Linked DNA regions of Homo sapiens: regions 1 and 3 are each linked to region 2. The links come from fine-mapping of genetic effects on gene expression. A gene starts in region 2. Each other region holds a variant in brackets. All regions are shown on one strand. Distances are from middle to middle.

Region 1 (7,740 bases), 45 kb before region 2:
TATTCCATGGTGTATATGTACCTCATTTTCTTTATCCAGTGTATCATTGATGGGCATTTGGGTTGATTCCATGTCTTTGTTATTGTGAATAGTGCTACAATGAACATACACATGCATATATCTTTGTAATAGAATGATTATATTCCTTTGGGTATATGCCCAGTAATGGGATTGCTGGGTCAGATGGTATTTTTGGTTCTAGATCTTTGAGGAATCACCACACCGTCTTCCACAATGGTTGAACTAATTTACATTCCCACCAACAGTGTAAAAGTGTTCCTATTTCTCTGCAACCTTGCCAGCATCTGTTGTTTCTTGACTTTTTAATAATGGCCATTCTGACTGGCATGATATGGTATCTCCTTGTGGTTTTGATTTGCATTTACCTAATGATCAGTGATATTTAGCTTTTTTTCATATGTTTATTCGCTGCATGAGTGTCTTCTTTGAGAAGGGTCTGTTCATGTCCTTTGCCCACTTTCTAATAGGATTGTTTGTTTTTTTCTTGTAAATTTGTTTGAGTTCCTTGTAGATTCTGGATATTAGACCTTTTTTGAATGGATAAATTGCAAAGATTTTCTTCAACTCTGTAGGTTGCCTGTTCACTCTGATGATAGTCTCTTTTGCTGTGCAGAAGCTCCTTAGTTTAATTAGATCCCAATTGTCAATTTTTGCTTTTGTTGCAATTGCTGTTGGTGATTTTATCATGAAATGTTTGTCCATGCCCATGTCCTGAATGGTATTGCCTAGATTTTCTTCTAGGGTTTTTATAGTTTTGGGTTTTACATTTAAGTCTTTAATCCATCTTGAGTTAATTTTTGCATAATGTGTGAGAAAGGGGTCCAGTTTCAATTTTCTGCAAATGGATAGCCAGTTCTCCCAGCACTATTTTTTAAATATGGAATCCTTTCCCCATTGCTTGTTTTTGTCAGGTTTGTCCAAGATCAGTTGCCTGTAGATGTGCCATCTTATTTCTGAGTTCTCTATTCTGTTCCATTGGTCTGTGTATCTGTTTTTGTACCAGTACCATGCTGTTTTGGTTACTGTAGCCTTATAGTATAGTTTGAAGTCCAGTAGGGTGATGCCTCCAGCTTTGTTCTTTTTGCTTAGAATTGTCTTGGCTATACAGGCTGAATTCTACAAGAAATACAAAGAGGTGGTCGGGCGTGGTGGCTCACGCCTGTAATCCCAGCACTTTGGGAGGCCGAGGCGGGCAAATCACAAGGTCAAGAGATCGAGACCATCCTGGCCAACATGGTGAAACCCTATCTCTACTAAAAATACAAAAATTAGCTGGGTGTGGTGGCACATGCCTACAGTCCCAGCTACTCGAAAGGCTGAGGCAGGAGAATTGCTTGAACCCGGGAGGTGGAGGTTGCAGTGAGCTGAGATCACGCCATTGCACTCCAGCCTGGCGACAGAGCAAGACCCTGTCTCAAAAAAAAAAAAAAAAAAAAAAGGAAAAAGAAACACAAAGAGGTGTTTATACCATTTCTTCTGAAACTATTCCAAACCATTGAAAAGGAAGGACACCTCCCTAACTCATTCTATGAGGTCAGCATCATCCTGATACCAAAACCAGGCAGAGATACAACAAAAAAAAGAAAACTTCAGGCCAATATCCCTGATGAACATCGATGCAAAAATTCTCAATAAAATACTGGCAAACTGAATCCAGCAGCATATCAAAAAGCTCATCCACCACGATCAAGTAGCCTTCATTCCCAGGATGCAAGGCTAGTTCAACATATGTAAATCAATAAACGTAATTCATCACATAAACAGACCTAAAGACAAAACCACATGATTATCTCAATAGGTGCAGAAAAGGCCTTCAATAAAATTCAACATCCCTTCATGTTAAAAACTCCCAACAAACTAGGTATTGAAGTACCTCAAAATAATAAGAGCCATTTATGACAAACCCACAACCAATATCATACTGAATGGGCAAAAGCCGGAAGCATTCCCTTTGAAAATCGGCACAAGACAAGGATGCCCTCTCTCACCACTCCTACTCAACATAGTATTGGAAGTTCCGGCCAGGGCAATCAGGCAAGAGAAAGAAATAAAGCGTATTCAAATAGGAAGGGAGGAAGTAAAAATGTCTTTGTTTGCAGATGACATGATCCTATATCTAGAAAACCCCATTGTCTCAGCCCAAAAACTTCTTAAGCTGATAAACAACTTCAACAAAGTCTCAGGATACAAAATCAATCTGCAGAAGTCACAAGCATTCCTACACACTAACAACAGGCAAGCAGAGAGCCAAATCATGAACTCCCATTCACAATTGCTACAAAGAGAATAAAATACCTAGGAATATAGTTAACAAGGGAAGTGAGGGGCCTCTTCAAAGGAGAACTACAAACCTCTGCTCAAAGAAACCAGAGAGTACACAAACAAATGGAAAAATATTCCATGCTCATGGATAGGAAGAATCAGTATCATGCAAATGACCATACTGCCCAAAGTAATGTATAGATTCAATGCTATTCCCATTAAACTACCATTGACATTCTTCACAGAATTAGAAAAAAATTATTTTAAAATTCATATGGAACCAAAAAAGCTGAACCTAATTTTTAAACTGCCATAATTAGCTAGCATTTAATGAGCACTTACCTCCCAAGCAAGCAATGCATACACGGTCTATCTCATTTAGCTCTCACCAAAGCCCTGAAAAGAAGGCACTGCTTTCCCCAGTTGGGCAGATGGAGAGCTTGAAGCTCAGAGACGCTAAGTAACTTCATCTCCAGCCAATCAGCAACTGAGCGGAGGCTCTTAACCAGGCCCTCGGATTCCAGCACCTGCGCCTGGCCCTGTGTGGCTTCCAGCCGCTGAAAATTCCAAACTCAGGCACATCAAAGGACAGGTCCTGGGTGAGACAACGAGGGAGCACTTCTCCTTCCCATCCTCATTTTGAAGATTTACAGAGGCCTGAACACAGGGAGGGGCCTGAAGAACCTATAAAAGCTTGGTGAGTACCTCCCAGACTGGTCTTGTACTTCCAGGAGCTTTTGTACAGCCCACTGCCAAAACTCATTTTCCCATTTTTAAGTGTTGGGGAAAAGAAATATAGAAAAGAAAATTCTATGGCACATGAAAATTCCATGAAGTTTAAATTCCAGTGTCCATCAATAAGGTTTTGTTGACACCGTCATGCCCACTGGTTGACTTATTGGCTGTGGCTGTTTTCCTGCTACAGCTTAGTTGGCCACAAAGCCAAAAATTTACTCTGCAGTCCTTTACAGAAAACACTGGCCGGCCTCTGGCCTGGGCTGTGGTTGGTTCCTAGGGTGCATTGGGCATCATTGCCCTCAGGACGCTCCAACACTCACTCTGAGATAGGGTCGCTGGGCCCTGCCTTCCCACCTAGCAAAGCCCCTCGGCCTCTCTGAGTCCTCCTGCAGGAAGCCTGCCCCAGCGAGAACCCAGGTGCCCTCCCTGGGTCCCCTGGGTCACTGTACTTGCCTGGGTCACACATCAGTTAACTGCAATGCTGCAGGGCTCAGCCTGTCTTTCCAGCAGGGCCTGCCCTGCACTACTCATGTGATGAATGAATGAAGGAGCAGATGAGAGAATGAGCACTCAGAGGAGGGGCGCTCGCCTGTCCCCCCGACTCCCATGCCTTGGAGACAAGCCATCCCCAGAAGAATCCAGGGACCCCATCCCCTCCGCTTGCACCCCGCCCACACCCGGTGCCTCA[T/C]TTCCACGCAGACCGCTGTGCTGCTGATGCGGCAGCTCAGGACTTCTGAGTCCATGCCCCTGAGCACCAGCTCGGCCAGCCTCTGCCTGTGGCCCTCCACGTGCTGCATGCACAGCCTGCAGAGGAGAGACAGTGCCAGGTCGTGGAGGCGGCCCCACCCCTGCCTGACGTTTGCCAAGAGCTGGGCAGGGCCACATCGGTGCCTGGACCCTGGTGGCAAGATAACCCCGGAAAGATGTCGTAACATCTCTGGGTTTCTCCCTCCTCTTCCTGGGGACTTGGTTGAGGTTGTCAGTGAATCAGTCAATGTCTATCTCCTTTTTACAAAGGGGACTAGAGTGAGGGCGGCTCCGGAGTGACTAGGACCCCAGAAGTAACTCCCATCCCTGGCCTACTCTAGACCCTGTGTGGCCCTGGGGGCGAGCCCCTCCTCTTTCTGCCCTCATATCTGCTCTGAGCAGGAAGGGTTCGAATAAAAGGTTCTCATTCTCTTGCACACCACTGCCATCCTAGAGTCACAGGTTGGCGTGGCAGTTCCCCCAGAAAGAAGGCCTTCAGCCATGACTGGACCATGTCCTCACAAGGAGCCCTTCCATCCAGCAAGGAGGTGCCTCTGCAGGTCCCCCTGCCACCCTGTGGGAGCCAGGGCCCACCTGGCCAGCAGGCTCACACCCTCCAGGAATGTCCCGCCGTCCTGCAGGAGGTCCCACACTGCCTGCTCGTCCAGGGTATGTGCCAGGTGCTGGCTCTTGACTCTCTTGAACAAGAGCTGCATGGACTTGATAGTGACCCTGAAGGGAGGTGGGAGCTTGTGATGCGCTGCCCTGCTGGGAGCGCATGGCCTGGGGAGGCTGCTGCAATCTGTGAAGTGGGGCCCCAGTGCCTGCCGGGCCCAGCCCAAGGGACTGAGGGAAAGGTCCAGGGAGGGAGTGGATCTGCAAGCTCTGAAAACCACACCGTGCTTGACACACATGAGAACGGCATTTTGAGTAAGATCAGATCCCACCAGGAGGAGACAGAGGGCCCCTCACTGGAGTCCACTGGCAACTAAGGGGCAGCCCGTGGCTACAGCCAGCCCAGGCCTGCTGCCTTGCACCCACCGCCCTCGAGAGCACCTTTGCAGGTTCATCTCCTCCGGCAGAGGAGTGGTGTGGACCAGCTTCCACATCTTCAAGACCGGCGGGGCGGCCTCTGGTCGGTGGCTGCTTCCAAGCTGCAGCAGGAGGGTGTAGATGAGGTCAGGGAGGAAGTCCGGGAGCTTGTCATTCTCATCCAGCTTCTGAATGAGAAGGTGGATGGTGCACAGGGTCTGCAGAGAGAAGGTCCAGGGCATCGGGCTCCTACCCAGAGACCCCTGAGGAGCCTTGGGGCCTGCGCCTGCAACTCACCATCAGGGGGTCCACCGCAGCCAGGCGCCAGATGTCAGCCTTGGAGGTGGCACTGATTCTGGGGCTGAGCCGTGACTGCAGCCGGCCCATCAGGCTGTGGAGCATGGTCCGGGCGAAGGGCACGTTCTCCGACACTGCCAGCCACACCTCTGCCAGGTGGCTAACCAAAGTCAGGGCACAAGGACTGTGAGTTTCCTGGCATGTGCCCTGGCAGGTAAGAATCCCTTTCAAACCCTTGGCAGCCCCCTAAGTAGGGGTTGGACTCTGGGGACTGAATCTCAGGGAGGCGGAGGGAGCCGCCAAAATTTGCGTGCTTAGAACCCAGGCCCCTGACACTATACTCAACCCCCTTTCTCTGCACGGGCTCACGGTACCTTTGGGAAAGCCATGGCCCCCACGGAAGCCCCACCTCCACTGCTAGATGACCACAGAGACCCCCACCTGTTTGATGACTGTACGGACATGTCCCACAATACCTCCTAGTGCCCAATTTGCATCAGGTTGGTTGTCGGTAGCTTTCTGATATTATATCACCTAACCCTCCCAACACATCTTTGAGGAAGGTATTTTGTCTCCCTATTCCACAGAAGAGGGAAGTGAGGCTTGCAGCAGTCAGGCCACCTGCCAAACTACAGTTGGAAAAGGGCCTTCCTGGTTTCCAAGTCCAAGCCCATGGCCCTGCTGAGAAGGGATGTCCCCCAGGATAGGTACAGAGGCACAGAGAGCGGGGCATCTGGGAGGTTCTAAAAGGCTAATGTGAGTCTAACAAGTCTAAATGTAATTTAACAAGGTCAAGTTGAACAAAGAGATGTGTAAACTGACTATTGGAACCCACAAAACCAATGCACAAGAGCAGGGTGGTGAGTTTGGGTCTGAAGGGAGATGTGCCTGGGGGCCTGGGGGCAGGAGTAAATGGAGAGGGGGCAGAGTGCACTCATCAGCACCCTCTGTAAAGAAGCCATGGGGCGCAAGGAAACAAGAAGGGGCACCTCAGTCCTACAATGGCAAGAAGCAACTACGAACAATGACACAATCCTGGAAGACAACCCCAGGCTCTGGAATGCAGCCCAGCTGACACCCTCATCACAGGCTTGTGAGACCCTGAACAGAAAGCCCAGCTAACCCATGCCTTGACTCCTGAACCATGGAAATTGTGAGCTAATCCATGGATGTTGTTAGAAGCTTCTAAGTGGGTGATAATTTGTTATTCAGCAATAGCAAACCAATACAGATTTTGGCAAACTAAGTGAAAGCCAGTGTGACGTGGCCACCAAGTACGCCAGCCTGACCCAGGGCTGCACCGCACATCCCCCTTACCCCCACCCAGCACTGCCTCATGAGCCACTGAGCCTCATTAAATCATGACACCTGCACCACCCTCCCAGCTGGACCCACGGCAGGGCTGCCCTTATGAGAAGCAGCTCCACAGGGGAGTCATGCCTGCATTTCGGGCAGGTCAGCCCTTGTGGCTCTGGAGCCGGGGCCTATTTTTAAAACTCTTTTCTCTGTTCCAAGCCTCTTACTTAGCCTGACATCTCCTCACGTCCCTGCACCAGCACAGGCTCCACTGCTCTGGGGATGACTGTCTAGCTCTTTCTGGCTCCTCCCAGATGAATTCTGGTACCACCCCAAACAGACTCCCCACATGTGGGGAGACCATGCCCAGCTGCCTGTGCCATCATGCTGTAGCACACACAGGAGCTCTGCACTGTCTGCAGAGAAACACCAATAAAGATGGGGTGGCTCTGCATCACTCATGGCCACCTCTGGGGCTGGAGGTTGGGCCATTCTCCCCTTGGAGACTGGGACAAGTCGCTTCCCCTCTTAGGACACATTTTGAAAGAAATAGGGACAGCCTGGAATATATCCAGGGCTTGCTCATGCCTTGGAGCCGCACCCTGCAGCCCATCTGCTGGAGCTCTGTTCACAGGGAAGGAAAGGGCTACTCTGGGAGAGAATGAACTCCACAGACACTGTCCCGGGCATGTGGGGAGCTACGGGTCCAGATTCCAGCTCCATGTGGCGAAGTTCTACAAGCCTGGGCTCTGTCAGTGGCTCGTCGGAGGCTGGCACCTCCTGCAGGAGGTACAGGAAGAGGGCTTCGACCTCCTTCAGGGTGGGGCAGGGTACTGCCCAAGGCTCCAGGCTTCTGGGACACATCGGGGTGGTGAGTTGGGCATGGTCAAATGGCACAGGAGGCCGGGGCCACCTCCTCCAGGGCACCCACCTCTCCATGGGCAGTGGCTGCCTCAGGAGCGATGTGAGGATGGTCTCCTGGTGGTGGTGCGCCAGCAGCAGGATGCCGTCAATGAGAAGGCGCCGCACCTCTGGGTGGTCCACCACCGGCAGGTGCACCAGGATGGCACTCAGGATCTCGGCCACCTAGGTAGGGATGGGGCATCACCGGGGGGCAGCCCAGGCCCCTATGGCCTCCTGCACTAACCCCATGACATGCCCCTGCTCTAAGGGCTCTGGCCCAGTTGGACAATGGGGAGGTTAAGCGCCCAGCACCCTCTCTAGTGCATCCTCTGGTCTCTGCCTCAAACTCATTTTCCCAGGCTTTCAGTGCAGGAGGTGGTGTGCTCTGGGGAGGAGAACCTTGATCTCCAGGTCAGCGTGCACTTAACTAACGAGGCTACCTTC
Region 2 (7,740 bases):
CCACTTTTACCACTGCTCTTCAACATAATACTGGAAGTCCTGGCCAGAGCAGTTAGGCAAGAGAAAGAAACAAAGGGCATACAAAATAGAAAGGAAGAAGTCAAATTATCCTTGTTCACAGATGACACGATCTCATACTAGAAAAATACAAAGACTCCATCCAAAAACTGTTAGAACTGATAAATAAATTTAGTTAAGTTGCAGATTACAAAATTAACATACAAAAATCAGTAACATTAGTATATGCCAAATGGCAAACAACAGAACACTTCACCCATTTTGAAAAAGAAACCAAGAAATCCATTTCATTTACAATAGCCACAAAAATATAAAATACCTAGGAATAAATTTAACCAAAGAAGTGAAAGATCTATGCAAGGGAAACTATAAAACACTGATGAAAAGAATTGAAGAAGACACCAAAAAATGGAAAGCTATTTCATGCTCACTGATAGAAAAATTAATATTATCAAAATACTACCAGAAGCAATTTAGAGATTCATTGAAATCTCTATCAAAATACCAATGACATTCTTTACAGACAATTTTTACATGGAACCATAAGACTCCAAACAGACAAACCAATCCTGAGCAAAAAGAGTAAAGCTGGAGGCATCATACTACCTGATTTCAAAATATACTTTAAAGCCATAGTAACCAAAATAGCATGGTACTGGCATAAAAACATGCACATAGACCAATGGAACAGAATAGAGAGCCCAGATGTCAATCCATGCATTTACAGTCAACTCATTTTTGACAAAGGTGCTAGGCACATATAATGGTGAAAGGACAGTCTCTTCAATAAATGGTGCTGGGAAAACTGGATAACCATATGCAGAAGAATGAAACTAAACCCCTATCTCTCACCATATGCAAAAATCAAATCAAAATGGATTAAAGACTTAAATCCAAGACCTGAAACTATGAAACTACTAGAAAATAATCATTGGGGAAATGCTCCAGGAAATTGGTTTGTGCAAAGATTTTTTGTGTGAGACCTCAAAAGCACAGGCAACAAAAGCAAAAATAGACAAATGGGATTATGTCAAGCAAAAAACTTATGCACAGCAAAGGAAACAGTGAACAAAGCGAAGAGACAACCCACAGAATAGGAGAATATCTCTCCATCCTACAAGGGATTAATAACCAGAATACACAAGGAGCTCAAACAACTCAATAGCAAAAAAATCAAATTTAAAAATGGGCAAAAGATCTGAACAGACATTTCTCAAAAGAAGGCATACAAGTGGCCAACAGGGATATAAAAAAATGCTCAACCTCACTAATCATCAGAGAAATGCAAATCAAAACCACAATGAGATATTATCTCACTCCAGTTAAAAAGACTTTTATCCAAAATATAGAAAATAACAGATGCTAGCAAGGATGTGGAGAAAGGGGAAACCTCACACATTGTTGGTAAGACTATAAATTAGTACAGCCATTATGGAAAACTCTATGGAGGTTTCTCAAAAAAAGTAAAACTAGATTTACCGTATGATCCAGCAATTCTACTACTGGGTGTGTATCCAAAAGAAAGGAAGTCAATATATCTAAGAGATAGCTGCATTTTCATGTTTATTGCAGTACTATTCACAATAGCCAAGATATGGAATCAACGTAAGTACCCATCAATGTATGAAGGGATAAAGAAAATGTGGTATACACAGACAACGGAATATTATTCAACCATAAAAAAAAGAAACCCTGTCATTTACCGTAACATGAATAAAACTGGAGGACATTATGTCAAGTGAAATGAGTCAGGCACAGATAGATAAATACCACATGTTCTCACTCATATATGGGAGCTATAAAAATGGTGAGCTCATAGAAGTCAAGAGTAGAATTTCGGTATTAGGGTATGGGAAAGGTAAGGGCAGGGGAGGATAGGGAGAAGTTGATTAAAAGATACAAAATTACAGCTGGAGAGAAGGAATAAGCTCTTGTGTTCTATAGCACTGTAGGTTGTGAATATAGTCAACAATGATTGATTGTATATTTTCAAAAAACTAGAAGAAACAGTTTTGAATGCTTGCAACACAAAGAAATGATAAATGTTTGCAGTGTTGGATATACTAATTACCCTGATTCGGTCATTACACATTGTATATATGTTTTGAAATATCACTTTGTATTCTATAAATATGTACAATTGTTATGTGTCAACTAAAAATAAAAGGGGGAAAACGCAAATGCAAATCCAAATCCAACAAAAATAATAAAACTTTTTATAAATAAGCTCCTCTGCTCATAGCACCCCTTTGCTACCCACTCCAAGACAAAAGGGTAGTCTAAAATCCAACAGTTCTCAAAGTAGGCTCTCCAGATCAGCCTTGGCATCACCTGGGAACTTGTTAGAAATGCTGATTCTCAGGCTCCACCCCAGACTTACTGAATCAGAAACTCTGGGGGTGGTGCCCAGCAAGGTTTGGATCAGCTCTGTTCCAAACCCTTGTCTAGTCCAAAACCTTGTCTGGTACCACGTGATGCAAACCTTGTCTGTACAAGCCCACCAGGTCCCCTGGTTGCACTTTGTATCACTCCCTCCAACATCCTCTACCCCAGCCCCTTAACCCAGCTAGGCATCTCCCCACTAGCCAAACATCCCTGCACACTGTGTCTGGTGTATCTTTACTCTCCCATGCCCACTGGCTCAACATCTTTGCAACTCAGCTCATGTGCTGTAGGACAATGGCTCCCAAACCCACTGTGTCAGAAGACAAGGGAACTTTTAAAAATTATGAACATCTCAGGTCCCAATTGGTCCTCAGGGAGTAAGCACCTCACAGTCTTGCCCATCTCTGTATCCCAGTACCACACATCACATCTCTGATAGTCAGTAACTATGTGCTGGGTGGTGGATGGATGCACACAGAGCTAAAGGTGGCTGAGCCCAGTGGGTAAGATGGCCCTACCTCTGGCACCTGCAGGCAGCGGATGAGAGTGTTTATCACTACAGAAGGCTCAGTGGTGGCCTTCTCCATGATTATCACCGAGGCCAGGGTCTTCCGCATGTCAAGGCCTGCCCCTGTTGTGTCCGTCTTTGCTGACTCGCTGTCAATGATGTCCAGAAGGTTCACGACTTGTTGAAAGGTACCTATGAAAACAAACGCCACCCAGGTGCAGTGTGGAAATGACCATGACAGGAGGTGCCCTTGTGTCCCTGGCCTTGCCTCCACCTGCGCAGCTCCAGCTTCATGTGTGGTATGATGTCCACTGTGCAGATGGAGAAAGGGAGACCTAGGCTGGGGCTGCAGTCAAAGAGTTAGTGTCTGAGATGGGGCAGGAAAGCAGAAATGTGGATGACATTCTTACCACTGTCATGTAATTCAAGAGGCCCCAGGTCGTCTCTTTCCTCTGACACCTCCTCACTTGAGGCTACTGCTGCTTCTGTAATGGCTTCAGTCATCTCTTCCTCAAGCTCTTTTGAGATCAACAGAATTTGTAAAATACGGGGTGTGACACACACCTTAAGATGACCCCAACGACCCACACCCTTCCATAAAGCCATCCCCTTGAGGGTGTGTGGGTGGAACCTGTGACTTCCTTCTAATCAACAGAATATGGCAAAGGTGATGGGTGACCCTCTCTCGAGTGGATTACATCATATGGCAAAGATGGTGGGATGTCATTCCCATGATCACACTATGCCACATGAGATTCCCTCTTATCAGATTGAACAGAAACATTCTACTGGCCTTGAAAAGTAAACAGCCATGATGCAAACTGCCTGTGGTGAGGGCCACGTAGCAAGGAACTGAGGGCCTCAGTCCTACAACCATAAGAAACTGAATTCTCCAATAAGCACATGAGCTTGGAAGAGGAAGCTGAACTCCAGAAAGGACTGCAGTCTCTGAGACCCTAAACAAAGGACCAAGGAAAGCCATGCCTAGACTCCTGGCCAGTGGAACCGTGAGATAATCAATGGATGTTCTTTTAAGCCACTGAGTTTATGATAATTTGTTACACAGCAATAGATAATATCCTTAGTTTAATAGAGCCCTCTCGCCCTCTCTTCTACACACTGATAATTAATGGCTAATGAGAAATTCATATCAGTATCTCTCATAACTCCTTTAAGGGGTTCTCTCAACATCCACAGCTTCTTAAAAATTGAGAAACACCAACATAGATGTCGAGATGGTGGAAGAAAGGCTCTCAGATCCTTTCTCCTCCTGTCCCAAGTTCCTTGATCCTCAAAGATCCATCCCATGGCCCTTTACTATCCCATACTCTCTTTTCCTTTAAAGGATTTTAAAGAGCTACTCTGGGACCTAAATACTGACCTTTCCTTAGGGTCTTCTTCTGGATTAAACAGATATTAACCACAAGAAAAAGCTCTGCTCTTGGCCCAATACACATCAATGGAAATGCAAATGGAAGAATTGGTTATCAAAGTGAGACAGCTGGGCTCTTCAGTCATATTTCTTATAGGAATGGGTCTCCTGGAAGGGTGGGAGGGTTTCACTAGAACTATCACCGTTAGATCCCAGACCCTCGGAACTTTGAGATCCAACTGCCTCCCTGAGTCTCTATCAACCCAGGTCTTTGAAGAGTGCACAGGGCTCTGGGGTGAAAACTCCACATCATGTTGTCATTCAACATTTCTGTTATTCACATGTGTGTGCTGAAGTACAGGGGCCTGTTTGGGAAAGGGAGATGGTAGAAGTGGGGATGGCTTACAACCAAGTCCCAGGGGAACACAGTCATGTGAGCCCTGGGTGGGGAGGTGTGGTCAGGACAGTTGGAGAGGAGAGGAGGGGCAGACTGAGAGGCCCTGGGGAGAGCACTCCTCCTTCCCGGGGACTGGATGACTTGCAGGATAAGAAATTGGATTTCCACTAGCACAATACTTACAAGATAAAGAACATCAAAGACAGGTAGGAGAGGAGGCACCCTGATTTCCTAAACCAAAAGTGGAGCCCAAAGGATTTCCCTGTCATTTATAGCTAGGAGAGATGATCCAGATCATAGGTACAACAATGAAATATTGGCCTTTGGGAAATCTTTCTATGCACTGCAAGACAACAGGAACAAAACTCAGAGACATCTAGGGCCAAGGTTGCTTAAGTGGAATTTCCACTCCAAGTTTGCCCATCCAGCCAAATGGGAGTTCCTCAGCCTGTGCTTGGACACCTCCAATACGAGGGAGCTCATTACTCTCAGGACCAGCCTCTTTCTACTTCATGGAATTCAGATGGTTAGAAAATGAGCTTTCTTATCATGCCCAACATTTCTTCCTCATAAAATTCCTGCGTTATTCCTTGTTCTGCACTTGGAGATACATTGATCAACATGAAATAGACACAAGCAGCTATCCCATGCCCCTTCTTTCACAGGACTGCCCCTCTGCACTACCTCCTCCCACTCCCCACTGAGCCTTCTTTTCCGTTTGAAAGATCACTGAGGTGATGTGGTTGCCAAGTCCATTCCACAGGCCCAGACTGCACGCCTACTGTGTGCAGCTAAGCATGGCTTTCCATGCTGCAGTGGATATAGGGTAGGTGGAACACATCTCTGTCCTCTGAAGGTCTTCAGACTCAACACATGAAAAGTGATACATTTAGAGCCAGAAGTGAATGTGTCAGCAATTGCTGTGTAACAAACCACCTCAAAACTTAATGACTGAAAACAACCGATTATTATAGTTCACAAGTGTATGAGTCACCTGCGTGGGTCTGTGGATCTGTGCTCTGTCCAGCCAAGCACAACTAGAGTCTCACCCATGTATCTCAGACAGCTAGAGGGCTGGCCATTGGCTCGCTATTGGCTGAAATGACTAGGGTGATGGGGACATTGTGCAGCAGGGCTCACCCAGGCTGTTCTCATAGCAGCTGGACAGGGTTCTGAGACAGTGAGCGGGAATATGAAGGCTTCTTGAGGCCTAGACTTGAAACCAGTGCTCATCACCTGCCACACTCTGTCAGCCAGGGCAGGTCACAGGCCAGCCAGGACCCACAGGCTGGAGAAATAGATTCCTCCTTTTCATGAGAAGAGTTGCAAAGTCACATTGTGAAGGATATGGCAATCAGGAGGAGTGGAGAAAGGGGTCATTTTTAAATTACACACAGGTCGAGTGTGTAAGCCATGGCCAAAAGTAAGAGGCCCCTGAGCATGTTATCTACAGAGGACATGAAGACAGTGAGACCAAGGAGGAAGAAGGGGGCTCTGCTTGGCTTTCCAAATTGAAAATACTTTTTTTCATGGGGAAACGCTGTCTCTACTAAAAAATACAAAAATTAGCCGGGTGTGGTGGGGTGGCATGTGCCTGTAATCCCAGCTACTCAGGAGGGTGAGGTAGGAAGAATCACTTGAACCCAGGAGGCGGAGGTTGCAGTGAGCCAAGATCACACCACTGCACTCCAGCCTGGGCAACAGAGTGAGACTCCGTCTCAAAAAAAAAAAAAAAAAAAGTAAATACATTTTTTTCTGATTATGACAACAATATTGAACTCACAATCCACTCACAAAATCAGCTTCTCTTAGGTGCTGTCACTCTATGGCACGTTGCACCACTACTTCTATGGGAACTACCCAGGAAATAAGAAAACGCTTTATTCGTAGCATCCTGTGAGCTTAAATACACAAAAGGCCCAAGACATAATGTGGGAAAATGGAAATATTGTGCAGAAGCTGACTGTATTAGTCCATTTTCATACTGCTATGAAGAAATACCCAGGACTGGGTAATTTATAAAGAAAAAGAGGTTTCATGGACTCACAGTTCCACATGGCTGGGGAGGCCTCACAATCATGGCAGAAGGTGAAGGAGGAGCAAGGGCACATCTTACATGGTGGCAGGCAAGAGGAAGTATGAGCAAGAGGGGGAAAAGCCCCCTATAAAACCATCAGATCTTGTGAGAACTCACTATCACACAAATAGCATGGAGATAACTGCCCCCATAATTCAAATCACTTCCCACCAGGTCCCTCTAATGACACATGGGGGTAATGGGAATTACAATTCAAGATGAGATTTGGGTGGGGACACAGCCAAACCATATGACTCACCCAGAGGCAGTCTCTACAGGGTGGATTCTGCCCGGCTCACAAGGTTCCCTCTCCCGTGGCCCAAGCAGCCACAGCAATGGGATGGTGGGAGCCATGTTTTTCTCTCCGTAATCCCTCTCGGCATTGATGATTGGACAGGGAGAGGACACCTGATCCAGCTGGACCAATCAGATTCTGACTTTCAGGAAGGTGGCACTCCAGGCCAGAGAGAATCCAGTCTGTCTCTTGTGGGATCTTGGGAGCTAGGGCAGAGGAATATGGGGACTGAGGGGCCGAAAAGACCCGGAGGAGAGGGAAGAGGAAAGCTGGCACTCTGACCCAACAGGGACAGGAGTGAGAAGGGGAGGCTCCACCCAGCGCAGGCCTGGCTATGAGCCTCGCGTCGTCAGAAGCCTGTCTCCTTACAAAAATACTGTTTATGCTTAAGGTATCCCGAGTTGGGTTCTCTCACTTGTAAACAAGAGTGCCTCAGTGCTGCAGACACGAAGGTGCAAATGAACATGAGCTGGCTGGAGGTCATGGCAACTTGGGGTCCCTGAGAGAGGTTGGGGCGTCAAGGAGCTAGGGGCAGTGAGGCCGGGAGATGGTCCCCGGGTGGACCAGGAAGGGCTTTGAAGGAGGGTGAACGTAGTTGAGGGGTGACTGCACAGCCTCAAGGATGTAGAGAGGGAAATAGTGGACAGAATGTGTTCCAGCCACTGCCTAGGGAAGGAGATGGAGCTGG
Region 3 (7,740 bases), 60 kb after region 2:
AACATTCTTATTATAATACAAAATAACTTGAAAAAATAAGAGGGAGATGACTACAAAATTATTAACAATATCAGAATTAGGTAACAGCCTTATAGACAGTCACTGCATCAAAGGAGAAATTTAAAAACTGATATTTAAATTATCTAAAAGCAATGAAAAGAACAGCAATTTTTACCAAAACCTAAGTAAAAGAAATCTTTTACTCGAGCCCTCAATGCTTCATTAAGAAAAATCAAATGTAAAGAAGTGTAATAGTCCTCTAACGAAGTTGCAAAAGCAGCTACAAATCAACCAAAAGAAACTAGGATGAAATCATTAAGGCAAAAATAAGCTGCAATTAACGAAACGGAAAATGAAACAGTGAAAAGAATATACAAATTCCACAGTTATTTCTTTGAGAAGACCAATCAAATAATTCAACCTATCCATAAACTTTAAATCAAGGAGAAAGAGAGGGAGAAGAAACGTAAGATTTCAACTTTAGTCTTGTATATTTGTAGAAAAATTTCAAATCTAAGGGTCAACCAAACCAAGTAAGTAAGGGTGACAAAATAACAAAGGAAATCAATGTAATAAAAATGATAATGGCGTGTCTGTCACAGATAATACATGATAAAGATTTTGGTGTAAATGATCTTTCATGCACTCAGTAAATTGGCACGAACATGGCAAAGGTCTCCAGGTGACACATCTTGTCCTGCAGGAGTCTTAAACTCTACTAATGATGATGATAGCTCTTCCTCTAAGAGGCCTAAGGTGATCTGTGAAAATTCTTCTTTATTCACTTGACCCAGAAACACCACAAAATCATGCAATTCAAGAGGTTTCAGTTTTCCTGTTCACTTAAAGGACATTCGTGAAACTACCCAGGCCATCAATGTATGCATATACAAAGAGCCACCAAGTGTCTGAAGGATGTCACTTTATGGAAGCAGTGTGCACCATTTCGATATTGCAATGGAGGGGCTGGCAAGTGTGCCCAGGGCCGAGCAGTGGGGCTGGACACAAGGTCGGTGGCCCAAATAGGGTGCTGGATTTTTGCTGCATGTGCTTTAAAATGCAGAGAATAATGCTAAATATAACAATTTAGATGTAGATTCTCTCATCATTAAGCTTATCCAAGTAAACAAAGCATCCAAGATGAGCCATGCGTCTTGCAGAGCTCATTATTGGATTAACCCTTACATGACCCCCCACTGCCACATTCAAGATGATCTTTACTGATAAGGAACAAATTGTTCCTAAACCTGAGGATGAGGTTGCACAGAAGAAAAAGATATCCCAGAAGAAACTGAAGAAAAAATTTACCTATGGCTCTGGAAGAAATTCAGCATAAAATAAATGCAATTAAACTAAAATAATAAGAATGATAACAGATAATATTTATTGGGTGCTCACTATAACAACATTAAAACCACAATGCTTAGGGTACCTGTCCTAGGTCACATAGCTAGAAAAATGAGAGTGAAGATTTGAGCCAGTGCAGTTCAGTCTAAAGAATATATTCATAGTGAAAAACCACAAGAAAAGAGCCACAATCACTATTCAAATGCCTTCCTAATTTTCCACATTTTTACAAAGCTAAAGAACATATATATTTTTTACAATTCAGTAACTACATTGCATAAGGGGAAAAGAAAACCAGTAGAACAAATATCTTGTGGTTTGATCAAAAACAAAAATAAAGTTTAGTGTCCTTTGCAATAATACCTACACTAATAAAAAGAAGTACAGAAATAAGAATACAAAGGACCTAAACTCATGGAAGTTCATATAAATTCAGTGAATATGACAAAAAAGGGCTCAATTCTCTCACAAGAAAGATGGCTCCCTCACTGGGCTTGGTGGCTCTTGCCTGTAATCCCAGCACTTTGGGAGGCCGAGGCGGGCAGATCACATGAGGTCAGGAGTTCAAGACCAGCCTGGCTAACATTGCGAAACCTCATCTCTACTAAAAAAAAAAAAAAAAAAATTGCCAGGAGCAGTGGCACATGCCTGCAGTCCCAGTTACTCAGGAGACTGAGGTGGGAGAATTTCTTAAACCCGGGAGGTGAAGGTTGCAGTGAGCGGAGATCCGGCCACTGCCCTCCAGCCTGGGCGACAGAACGAGGCTCAGTCTCAAGAAAAAAAAAAAAAAAAGGATGGCTCCCTTAATGGATTTAGAAACCAAATTCATTGGTGTGTGAATTTGGTTTTTCACATCCCAGAGTACTATTTCAATGAAACCCAAATATTCTGTATTAATGAAAGTCACCTCTGAAATTTTTGGAAAAAGAATAGATCCCACTATAGAAACTTGGAGTGGGATAGGGTGAGTTTGGTGATATGATCAGCTTCACCTGAGAAACACTTCCCTTCTTGGACACATGTCCATTCATCACTGGTCCCAGCTTCACTGGGCTTATAGATTCACGGTCTTATCTCCTCCCTAGTCCCTTCCACCCACTCTTGATAATTTCAGCATTCCAAGTAGAAGACCCTTTTGACATGCAACCATCACCATACCTTCCAAACTCTACGATGTCCCCACATCATACACCAGACCCCCAACTCCTGGTCAGAAAAACTTTTCTCAGGACAGATCCCTCTCTGGAAACTGAACTCCATGTTTCATTCTCTGATCACATGCATCCATCCCACCTTCACAGCCCCACTTCCACTCAACTGAGTCAACCTCTTTGACACTTCTACTTCCTGTGAGTGCCTAGGTCTCCTGTGGTCACCTCTGTATCTTTCGCAAGATGGGACCACTAAAAATTATCATGTCCACAATTCTAATTTACTGTTGCATCACCGTTCAGCTGAAAATCAGGCAAGCAAAAACCCCAGGATGGATCAGTTCTGAATGTAGTGTCCCTGATCCTGCCGAGCTGAAGGACATGCACAACCATGAAGATGGTGCCTTTACAAACACTGTCCGTGAGTCACAGCAGTCCTTGTCCATCCTCTGACAGACCCTCATCCGTGCCTCTTCTTCCTCTCAGTGACCACTGAAAACTTGAAATACACTAGGCCCCTCAACAGTTTATCTGTTATAAAGAAGCCAAAATAAAATCTTTGGAAAGATAAGTAGATATGGAAGCACTTGTAAGTAAATACATTTTTTAAAAAGTGTTTTGCCTGGAACATTGATTGGATGAAGGCACCAATACAGACCTGAGATAGTGGCTTCCCGTTGGCACAGTTGATGCCCCCAATGAAGACCATGTTGGGCATGATCGGCCTGGGGTAGTCCATCACAAAGTCCCCTCGGAACAGCCACACGGATGCATAGCTGACAAGATCCACCACTGACACCTCTCTCTGAAAAAGCTCAGAGGCAAGACTTGCATAAGGGGCAGAAAAAGTATGGCAAATGTAGGACAGGGCCAGAGGGTAGAGCATGTTCTTGACCCTTTGCAGGAATGTCATGTGGTCTGAATTGGTCGTTAGTAACTTAGGAATATAGGAGGAAGGATTTGGACACTGTGTGCCCTTAAAGTCTAAGTCACATGGAATGTACCTCCAAAAAAACACAGCAGGAATCGACAGGTACTTAGCCAGCACCGCCCCACAGAGGTTAACGGGGTCTGTTAAAACCACATCAAAGGAAGTAGCATTCAGGTGCCTGATCAGGGCCTCATTATGCAGTAGCTCCACACAACACCTATGAAGGGCCAAAGATACATTGTTCATAATTGCCATACTTCTAGAATATCTCTTCAGAAGATGTTCTGTTTCAAAGAACCCTTGAGTGTAGCCCAGCGTAACGCGATCAAATTCCTTCTGGGTCCATGGAACAGCATAGGCTGTCAGGGTGAAAAATTTCTCTTCTTTGATGTGCATATTCACCTCTGGGGTGAGGACCACCGCCTGGTGGCCTCTGGCATGGAGCTCCCGCAAGGCCTCCCGCATGCTGAGCCAGGGGCTGCCATCAGTGGGCACCACCAACACCTTTCCACTCTCAGCCCAGG[G/T]CTGGACACTGAGGAGGAGCAGCAGTCCTGTGGCCAGCCGCGGCAGGGGAACCTGGAGTCCTCTGGCCATCTCAGCAGAAGCCACCGACAGCTGACTGTCCACCCCACGCTGTGCCTGCTACATTTGTTTCCTTCGCCTTAATTACCTTGTCATTGAGCCACCTAGCAAATCAGCATGTAATTGGAAGACAAAGTGCCCTCCTCCAGTTACTTATTACCCATTAATCTATAACTGCCTTTCGTTATGGGCCCAACCCTGGGAAAGACCAATCACGCCTATCTTGAAAAGCTCATCTGACCCTGTGCTGCCTCTGGGGAACATCCAAGTTCAAGCTCTTCTTTCTCATTCAATTCCCAACACAAGGCTGTGGACACCCATTTCATGTCACTGCCTTCTACTCTGTTAACCATATTTATCAGGCTGCAGCTGAGGTCTGAGGAGTCACCATTGCCCTAGTCCCCAACCACATGTTCTCTGCTGAATGTGACGCTATTTGCTAACCCTTGAAACTCTTTCTTCTCATATGTGAATAACACAGCACATCCAAAAGACATACAACATTGCTAAGCCAGCTTTCTCTAAACAGAGAGTGTTCAGGCTGGCTATCTGGTTTTGGTCTTTTTTCACACCAGGATATTTCTTGTAAAGCTCAAAGAGGACTCTCTCTGAAGTGGCTGTCAATATAAAAAAAAGCTCCGGGGAGGCTGAGCTCAAGATGTGATGATCATATTCTTGGGAAGGCTTTATTGAGGATTCTCCATCTACACCATGGAATAAGAGGTGCTGCTGTCTAAAGCACACATGGGCAAGACAACCCTAGCAAGGACCCACGGTGGGTTCAGGGAGCTCCTGCTCACCAAAGGACCTGGGGAGCTGGAGCCTGGCCTCAGATCTTGCACAGTCTGAATTCCTCTTCTGAATGCCAAAGGCTCCAGTCTTCTGCAAGTCTGCATAGAGACTGAAGTATCCATTCATCCAGGCCTTTATTTCATCCTGAAGATTATGGCCAGGCTTTTCTCCAAGTCAATCCAGCACCAAGTTCTGATAAGAATGGTTCCTCCAGAACAGAACGGGCTGCATAATTTGTGGGGGCACTACTTCAAATTTCAAAATGGAGAATTAAATGTGTGCCTTTCTAGGGGGAGACCCTGAGCACTCACAATGGTCTCATGCCCATGAGGCTCGTCCTGCTCCAGAAAGTCACTCCTACATGTGCTCGCAAGATTGCTGATGCTTCCTTGTCCTGGTCGCCCCAGGATGAGGTGGGCAGGCTCTCTGGGCTGTGCCCACTTTCCATCTCACTACCTCTGTGTCTACATGCCTGGCCATGTCTGCCATTGCTGGTGAGGCTGAGGCTTCCCTTATGGAGGAAGTTACTCCCATTAGAAATCCACATTGATAACAGATTCCACCTTTGGACACAACCCATGGGACAGGCAGTGAATGGATGCGTCCATCAGAGGGACACCCAGCTCAAGGGAGGCATATGCAGGATGGCACAGAGAGGGCAGGTCTGTAAGGGCTTGAGAACTCCCCAGGGGAGGACGATTTCTGGGGATTTGTGAGGACACAGAGTGCTAGAAAGGGATTCTCAGCTGTGGGTGCAACATCTCAGCTTCTCAACTATTCCTCCAACCCCCTTAAAACTGTCTGCATCTTAAGAACCCTCCTGATGAGCCCGGGGTGAGGGTGGAACATGCCTGGGAGGGTGCTCTTGCCACATTCAAGGGGCTCCCATGTTCTATTTCCATGTAGTGGTGTTCTATTTCCATGTAGTGGTGTTTTATTTAGATAGTGATGTCATCTGATTTCTGGTTACGTGTCTGGCACTCCTAGACCCTGCGGAGGCCCATGTATCTTGGAAGATGGTGGTGCCTTCAGAGACATAGGGGCCCTGAGGACAGCAGGACTGTGGGGAGGGAGAAGCTCACATTCCTGGTGCCTGGGAAATAGGAGGAGCTGCCCAAGGCATCAGCTTCCAGGGTCTGGAGATGAGGAGGGGTCTGGGCTGCACAGATAGACTTGGAGCCATCAGCATATGTGGTAGCTGAAGCCATGGGTGTCAGTGAGGTCACCCCAGCAACGTCCAGAGACAGAAAAAGGCATCCCGAAAGCCTGACCTGAGTGATCTAGCTCCCCTCTCCCAATCTCACAGAGCTAAACATATAAACTGGAACTCTTTAGTGTTTTTAAGAGAATGTAGAAACTATATCTTGGGGTAAACAAAGCTTCCTTAGGGTACAAAAAGTACAAACGATAAAAACTTCACTAGAATAAACCTCATCAAATTCTAAAATTTTTGCTCTTTGAAAGTATTGTTTTTAAAAAATGAAAAAAGGAATATAAGGAGAGAAAGGAGATAATTGAATGGTAAGCTGAGAGCTCTGAAGCCTGGAGAATAGAAGACTACGGAGGACAGAAACAAAAATTAAATTTAAATGGCCAAATGAAGGAAAACCTCCAAGTTTTGAATAAGATGTGGGTTTCACTTTAAGCTTAGTGTCTGTGGTAGGCAGAATCACAGCCCCACAAAGTATCTACATTGTAGTTGCGCAAACCTGGGAATATATTCCATTACAGGTGGAAGAGACTTTATAGATGTGATTATATTAAGGGTTTTGACATGGGGAGATTATGCTGGATGTCCGGGCAGGACAATGTAATCACAAGGGCTCTTGCAAGTGAAAGAGACAGATGTAAGAATTAGAGACTTGAAGATGCTGCACTGCATCTCCATGGAAATGGAAAAGGGCCATGGAATTCCAAAACTAAGATGGAAAAACTAAATTTCTGTTAAAGGAATGAGCTTACACTCAGTGGAAAGAATACAACTAAGAATGGACAGAATCAGAATGCTGACATCAAAAGAAACTATCAGATTAAAGTCATTTTGGGTTTTGTTGTGTTTTAAATCAATCAATCAGTCAATCAGTCAGTCAGTCAACAAACCACAAGAGCTGAAACTCCTGAGCTCAATGATCCTCCCACCTGAGCCTCCCAAGTAGCTGGGGCCACAGGCACAAGCTACTGCACCCAGCTTTTCATATTGGAGTTTTAAAAAAATGTTTTCTAACTTTAAAACAAGATTTTCACATTCCAAATAAATTTTTATTTTTTTGAGATGGGTCCTCGCTCTGTCACTCAGGCTGGAGTGAGGTGGCGTGAACATGGCACACTGCAGCCTCCACCTCCTGGGATCAAGTGATCCTCCTGCCTCAGCCTCCCGAGTAGCTGGGACCACAGGTGTGCACCATCACACCTGGATAATTTTTTAATTTTTTGTAGAGATGGAGTCTCAGCATGTTGCCCAGGCTGCTCTCAGACTCCTGGGCTCAAGCAATCCTCCTCCCTCGGTCTCCCAAAGGGCTGAAATTACAGGTGTGAGCTACCCACTTGCACACAAATCATTTTCAAATTAAAAGAGATGGGGAATTCAAAAAATAACATAGGAGTCACATTACTGATATCAGATAAAATGTATTTTAAGGATTATTATTTAATGATAACAGCAAACTGTGAAGAAAATATAAGTCTCAAACCTCAAACCTACATGCACCAATCTAATCACTATGTATAAAGCAAAACCTATTCAAGAGCCAAAATATAACTGGAGGAGAATTTGTTATGTAAGGGGATTTTTTAAAAGACATCCTTCACAGAATTGGGCAGATTCAGTAGAGGGTCTTTTAAAAGATAGAAAAATTGCCTAGGTGTGGTGGCTCGCGCCTGTAATTCCAGCACTTTGGCAGGCTGAGGTGAGTGAATCACTTGAGATCAGGCATTTGA

Which allele goes with the higher level. Alleles are on the strand shown, and positions count from the first base shown. SD is a standard deviation of normalised expression in the study named. Not every link is listed here.
With allele T in place of C in region 1, the expression in testis of the gene that starts at base 4,444 in region 2 is lower (moderate effect, 0.43 SD a copy in GTEx).

What was found. PIP is the estimated chance that this variant, and not a neighbour inherited with it, causes the effect.
Region 1: its variant is the best candidate, but not a certain one, in a credible set for the expression of MROH2A in testis (GTEx, PIP 0.70).
Region 3: its variant is the best candidate, but not a certain one, in a credible set for the expression of MROH2A in lung (TOPMed, PIP 0.52).

Annotation. Positions count from the first base shown.
Region 1 is chr2:233,819,641-233,827,380 of GRCh38, reverse strand. MROH2A (maestro heat like repeat family member 2A) reads right to left here. Exons shown (of 42, transcript NM_001394639.1): 31 at 7,325-7,479; 32 at 5,098-5,257; 33 at 4,825-5,018; 34 at 4,363-4,500; 35 at 3,717-3,825. Among named protein-coding and RNA genes, the nearest start is that of HJURP, 31 kb to the left of the region's middle. RefSeq lists an enhancer at 4,050-4,550. The variant T/C (reference allele first, on the strand shown) is at 3,710.
Region 2 is chr2:233,775,034-233,782,773 of GRCh38, reverse strand. MROH2A (maestro heat like repeat family member 2A) reads right to left here and starts at 4,444. Exons shown (of 42, transcript NM_001394639.1): 1 at 4,293-4,444; 2 at 3,322-3,429; 3 at 2,922-3,103. The coding sequence starts at 3,415.
Region 3 is chr2:233,715,104-233,722,843 of GRCh38, reverse strand. All of the region lies in intron 1 of UGT1A8 (UDP glucuronosyltransferase family 1 member A8), which reads right to left. All of the region lies in intron 1 of UGT1A10 (UDP glucuronosyltransferase family 1 member A10), which reads right to left. The region is part of intron 1 of UGT1A9 (UDP glucuronosyltransferase family 1 member A9); the gene reads right to left. The region is part of intron 1 of UGT1A7 (UDP glucuronosyltransferase family 1 member A7); the gene reads right to left. It also overlaps UGT1A6, UGT1A5, UGT1A4, UGT1A and the pseudogene RPL17P11. The variant G/T (reference allele first, on the strand shown) is at 3,954.